2 separate regions of the Homo sapiens genome follow, and region 2 is linked to region 1. The links come from fine-mapping of genetic effects on gene expression. A gene starts in region 1. The other region holds a variant in brackets. All regions are shown on one strand. Distances are between the middles of the regions.

Region 1 (2,905 bases):
GATTACTTGAGCCCAGGAGTTCAAGACCAGCCTGGGCAACATAGAGAGGCCTTGTCTCTCCAAACAAAACAAAACTAGCCCAGCATAGCGGCAGGAGGCTGAGGTGGGAGGATCACTTGAGCCTGGGATGTTGAGGCTGCAGTGACCTGTGAATCACGCCACTGCACTCTGGCCTGGGTGACAGAGACTCTGTCTAAAAAAAAAAAAAAAAAAAAAAAAACCTAAGCTGTTTAGGAATGCAAGCAAATCCAAAGGAAATGAAAGTAGATAGTTTAGAAAACATGAAAAAAGAAGGCACTGAAGACTGGCAGGCTGGAGGCTTTACAGAGTCTCACTCTATTGACCAGGCTGGAGTGCAGTGGCACGATCTTGGCTCACTGCAACCTCTGCCACCCGGGTTCAAGCAACTCTCCTGCCTCAGCCTCCCGAGTAGCTGGAATTACAGGTGCCTGCCACCGTGCCTGGCTAATTTTTTGTATTTTTAGTAGAGATGGAGTTTCACCATCTTGGCCAGGCTGGTCTTGAACTCCTGACCTCGTGATCTACCTGCCTCGGCCTCCCAAAGTGCTGAGATTACAGCCGTGAGCCACCACGCCTGGCCTTTTCCATTCTCTTTAAAGCACTGCACACAAGTTATGTTACTGGTTTACTCACCAATATTGGCAGGAAAGGGAACTTCATGTACTGCTGGATCCAGGTTGATCACATACGGTGGAGTGCCTTGGGCATGCAGGTGTCCTGTGAGCCTCTGCAGAGATATGGGGAGAGGGTTGGAAGGAGACAAAGAGGGGACAAGAGAGAACTTCCATTCCTTTAACACCCATGCCTTAAGAATATTGCACTTAGATTTTCTTCTACCTGAAATATCCACCATGTCCACCTCCAAGATACAACTCTCAGTTCAAATGCTACCTTTCTTCATCACCCATCTAACAAAGCTTCCCCTACTCGTAGTCACTTGTTTACTTGTTTTGATTCTTCGTATGTGGGTTTTCTCTATCTCCTCCATTAAATATTTGGCCCCACGAATGAATCTTGTCAACCTCATTTTCGCTATATCCCCAGTGAATGGAACATGACAGGCGTGCAAGAAATATTTGGCAAATCTTCACCAAAACCTGTGTGCTAGCACTGTATTAATCTTTAAAGTTACTTGTAACTTGCCTCCGAGAAACGCAATTTTATCAGCAAGACAATTCCTGTACAACGTGGTAAGCTGGACCGAGTATGCCCTGAAGGTGCGCAGAAGAGAGCCTTAATTAACCTGGCTAGGGCCCGAGGAGGCTTTGCCGGGGAAGGAACTAAAGTTGATGGGAAGCCCCCGAAAGCCATGCGCCGGTACCCTCCAAATCCTCTTCCCTCCCTTTCTTCCTGGCCTTCCGCCTGCCGGAGGCAACCTTTTGCGCTCCCCTACTACACCCATGCTGTGTACGTCACCTGTACAAAAGTGGTTTTCCCGGATCCCGCCATTCCCAACACCAACAGACACACTGGGTGCCGCGGACCCCCAGAAGCCTGGAGCTCAGCGGCAGCTGCGGACGCCGCCATCTTCCTCCTGGCCCCACCCACCCGACCATAGAGACACCGCATGGGTAGAGAAACTTCCGCAATGTTCTGGGCTGCGAACGAAAACCACCACAGCGTCAGAAAGGAGCGGGTGAGGGGCGCGGCGGTTGCCAGGGCATCTTCTTAGCGTCGGGCAGGGCTGATGAGTCAACTAGTGACAGTGGCGAGGAAGTGGGGGCGCTGAGCAAGCGAGAGGAAGGCTGAAGGGAGCTAGGAAAAGGGCGCTGATCTCTGCAGCCTGGGAGGGCTTTTGTCTCCCGGAGGAAGGCCAGAAGAGATGGGGTCCCGAGGGCAGGGCTCACACAGCAAGAAAACGAGGAGCATGCCTGTCATTTTGAGCCCACAGAGAACGGGGAGCGGAGCCACTGGAGGACCGGCTGCTCGGGCTTATTCGGTAGCCGAGGCGGTTAAACAGTTCAGGGCTGGACCAGCCGGGACTGGAGCAGGGTGCAGTCTCCAGGGTTGCTGGGCAGCACCGAGACCCTTTGAGCACCGAACGAATAAACTACGGGAGCTTTCCACACTTGCACATTGTTCCCGCGAGTTGCAGACGCAGGTTCCTGATGCTAGCGCTCATTCCTTGGCAGTCACCCTCAGTGAACTACACAGTTGCCGTGACCTTCAGGATGAATGCTTGGATTCCAGGTGCAAGTAGGTACTGGAGGGGAGCTTCCTCCCCTCCAGTCACTGAAGGTCCCTCAGAAACTCAGGAAAGATGATGAAAGAGCCTAGAAAATTATTTCTACTCCTGACCACCCAGTCTGTTTCTGTGACCCTTTGTAGCTGCAAACAGTGTTCAGTAAGTCATAAGATCTGGCTTTAATACCCAGGCTCTGCCACTTGCTAGTGGTGTGAGTCATGGGCAAGTCACTTAAACTCTCTGAACCTGTTTTCTCCTTTTTTAAAACTGAGGTAATACCTCCCAGGGTTGTAGTGAATGCACGTTGTAAATGACGAGCTACATTCCTCATCCTTTACCACTAGCTGGATTCCCCACACCTTGCATAATGTCTGGAACATTCTGGTGCTCAGAAATATTCTCTTGTATGAATGAAGGACAGTTGTGCACTTACTTCCTAAAGTTTCATTAACTGACAGAGGAATGTCTCGTTTGTTCTTTCAGGTTTGCTGAGGGCCCCAGAAGGCTCCTTCCACCGTATCATAGTCTAATAAATAATTTTGTCAAGCCAGAGAAGCTAACAAAGGTAGAGACAAGGCTTAAAGAAAAGATAGTGGCGGAAATGACGGATCTGAACAAGCATATAAAACAAGCTCAAACCCAGCGGAAACAGCTACTGGAGGAATCCAGGGAGCTACACCGAGAAAAGTTACTTGTCCA
Region 2 (2,905 bases), 84 kb before region 1:
CTTCATCTGTGCAATGGGGAATTGTAATAAAGCTTCCCTCACAAGACTAAGTGAGTCAGTGCACAGGGAGGCACCTTTCAAATGCACCTCCCTGTCAAAGGAGAAGGCCTAGTTTACTTTTTTTGAGTAACTCACACTTGTCTGTTGCCCCTCATGGTGGGCAGCATCCAATAAAGTTTTGTGGTCGTTTTTATTTATTTATTTATTTATATTTATTTTGTTTATTTATTTATTTATTTTGAGACCGAAGTCTCACTCTGTTGCCCAGGCTGGAGGGCAGTGGCTTGATCCCGGCTCACTGCAAGCTCCGCCTCCCGGGTCCATGCCATTCTCCTGCCTCAGGCTTTGGAGTAGCTGGGACTACAAGCGCCCGCCACCACGCCTGGCTAATTTTTGTATTTTTAGTAGAAAAACGGGGTTTCACTGTGTTAGCCAGGATGGTCTCGATCTCCTGACTTTGTGATCCACCCACCTCGGCCTCCCAAAGTGCTGGGATTACAGGCGTGAGCCACCGTGCCCGGCCTGTGGTCATTTTTTAAACTAAAGATGGGTAAACTATGACTGGGCACAGTGGCTCACGCCTGTAATCCCAGCACTTTGGGAGGCCAAGGCGGGTGGATCACTTGAGGTCAGGAGTTCGAGAACAGCCTGGCCAACATGGTGAAACCCCGTCTCTACTAAAAATACAAAAATTAGCCAGGCGTGATGGAACATGCCTGTAATACCAGCTACTCAGGAGGCTGAGACACGAGAATTGCTTGAAGCCAGGAGATGGAGGTTGCAGTGAGCCAAGATGGCACAACTGCAGTCCAGCCTGGGTGACACAGCGAGACTTATCTCAAAAAAATAAATAAATAAAAAATAAAGATGGGTAAACTGAGTCCAAAATAAGGAAGTGATGTGAGATGAGCCATCCTATCTCCAGAATAATGAGTGAGCAGTCAAGAGCCCATCCCTAGGCAAATGCAGAGCAGCTAGCTTGGGAGTCAGCCTTGGAGGCCAGCCTGGTCTTCAGTCCACAGCCCCTTTTCCCACAGGTGTTAAAAAGGGTTCCACAGTCTCATCCACCCCACGGACTCCGTCCCTACCACCTGCAAATTCGCCTTCCTCCGTCTTTATTAGAGCTTCTATTTTCTCTGGCGTGCCCTCTGGTTACTGTCCTAATGCCTTCTGCCTGCCTTGGGAGATGTCTGCAGTTTTACTCCAGCTTGGTTCTCTTCCTGCCCCTCTGATTGCTCCTTCTCTAGTGCTGGCTCCTCTTCCTTTCCTGAGCTTTTTTTTTTTTTTTTTTTTTTTGTAAGATGGAGTCCTGCTCTGTCTCCCAGGCTGAAGAGCAGTGGCACAGCTCACTGCAGCCTCCACCTCCCATGTTCAAGTGATTCTCCTGCCCCTCAGCCTCCCAAGTAGCTGGGATTACAAGCAT[A/G]CACAACCACTCCCGGCTAATTTTTGTATTTTTAGTAGAGACGGGGTTTTGCCATGTTAGCCAGGCTGGTCTCGAACTCCTGACCTCAAGTGATCTGCCCGCCTTGGCCTCCCAAAGTGCTGGGATTACACGTGTGAGCCATCATGCCCAGCCCTGAGTTTTTTTTTTTCAAGGGTGCCTATTATCCAGTGTTTATCATGCTGCCCTCAGTTCCCTATTCCTGGCCTTCTGCCTCTGGGAGAGGGACCTCATTGCTTTTGGTGGTTCCAGTTGTCTCCTCTAGGTTACCAGCTCTGACCTCTTGACTCCCAGTCCCAATTTCAGCTGCCCATTGGACAACTCTAAACTTAAGCCCTGTTGTCATCTCAAACTCAACATATCTAAAAATGAGTTCCTCATCTTCCCACAAAGCAGCTTTCCCAGCTGGTTTCCCTTTTCTGTTTGGTACATGACCATTCTCACCCAGGCACAAAGCTTTCATCAACTTTGACTCTTCTCCTTTCCTCTTCTACCTGCATGTAGGCACCAAACCCTGTGCATGCCTCCCTTGGGGTCTTGCTCTGGTATCCAACTCTTCCTTCCTTTTCCCATCTGTAGTCATCTATTGCTAGCCCTCAGCTCCAACGTTCCCAGTAGCTTCGTGGCTGTTTTCTCTGCCCATAGTCTCTCCATCCTCTAAAATGGGTTGACATCTGAACCAAGACCCACCTCCATTAGAGACTTCCTTTGAACATAGACCCTTTGAGCAGCGTTAGCACATCTTGCCTGTTCCATTCACTCTGCCAATTCCTCCAATCTTGCCAAGTGACATGCCTCCTATGGTTATTTAACTTTTCACATTTTTTACCCAAATGAGAAGCTCCTAGAGGTCTTTCCCAGCCCCTGATCTGAGCTTGCTCAGGGCCAGCTGGGACCCCGGTGCTACAACCTGGCACTTAACACAAGTGCTTCTGATTCCTCATGGTCTCCACTATTTTTCAATCTGGCTCACTTGAGCTCTTTTAAATTAACCGAGGAGTGCCCTTCACCCAGAAGCAGAGAGCCCAAATTCCAATGCCTGCAGGGGCCAGGCAGGTCATGACATGGGTGAGGCAAGGCAGGTGCACAATGATAGGGAGTGGCAGGACGTGGCGTCTAGACCCCAGGTCCCCAGTCTAGAGCAGTTGTTACTACTTAGGCCCCCTTTATGGATATCAGGCCCGGTGTGTTCAGAGTTTCCAATTTTTTTTTTAAATAAATACCAAATTTGGATTTTAGATTAAATTTCTCAACTTCTAAAATACTGTGCAAACCAAACAAAATACTGCTGCAGGCTAAGTTCAGCCTGCAGGTAACCCTGGATATAAAGATTTCCTGCTTTGTAATAATTCTTAGGTGGCAGAAAGCAGTTTGGATTGGGAGTTTCTAGTTCTGGTTATACCAGTAATGAGCTAAATAATCTTCAATAAGTTATATCCTTTCTCTGGGACCTCAGTTTCCTCA

Alleles and levels. Positions count from the first base shown, and alleles are read on the strand shown. Sizes are in standard deviations (SD) of each study's normalised expression.
As copies of A replace G in region 2, the expression in cerebellum of the gene that starts at base 1,557 in region 1 goes up (small effect, 0.36 SD a copy in GTEx).

What was found. PIP is the estimated chance that this variant, and not a neighbour inherited with it, causes the effect.
Region 2: its variant is the best candidate, but not a certain one, in a credible set for the expression of GPN1 in cerebellum (GTEx, PIP 0.63).

What each region holds. Positions count from the first base shown.
Region 1 is chr2:27,627,702-27,630,606 of GRCh38, reverse strand. It overlaps GPN1 (GPN-loop GTPase 1), which reads right to left and starts at 1,557. Exons shown (of 14, transcript NM_007266.4): 1 at 1,438-1,557; 2 at 655-748. The coding sequence starts at 1,548. It overlaps CCDC121 (coiled-coil domain containing 121), which reads left to right and starts at 1,595. Exons shown (of 2, transcript NM_024584.5): 1 at 1,595-1,657; 2 at 2,690-2,905. The coding sequence starts at 2,808. RefSeq lists enhancers at 1,313-1,412, 1,453-1,762, 1,823-1,882 and a silencer at 2,331-2,625.
Region 2 is chr2:27,711,555-27,714,459 of GRCh38, reverse strand. All of the region lies in intron 1 of LINC01460 (long intergenic non-protein coding RNA 1460), which reads left to right. Among named protein-coding and RNA genes, the nearest start is that of LINC01460, 2.7 kb to the left of the region's middle. The variant A/G (reference allele first, on the strand shown) is at 1,424.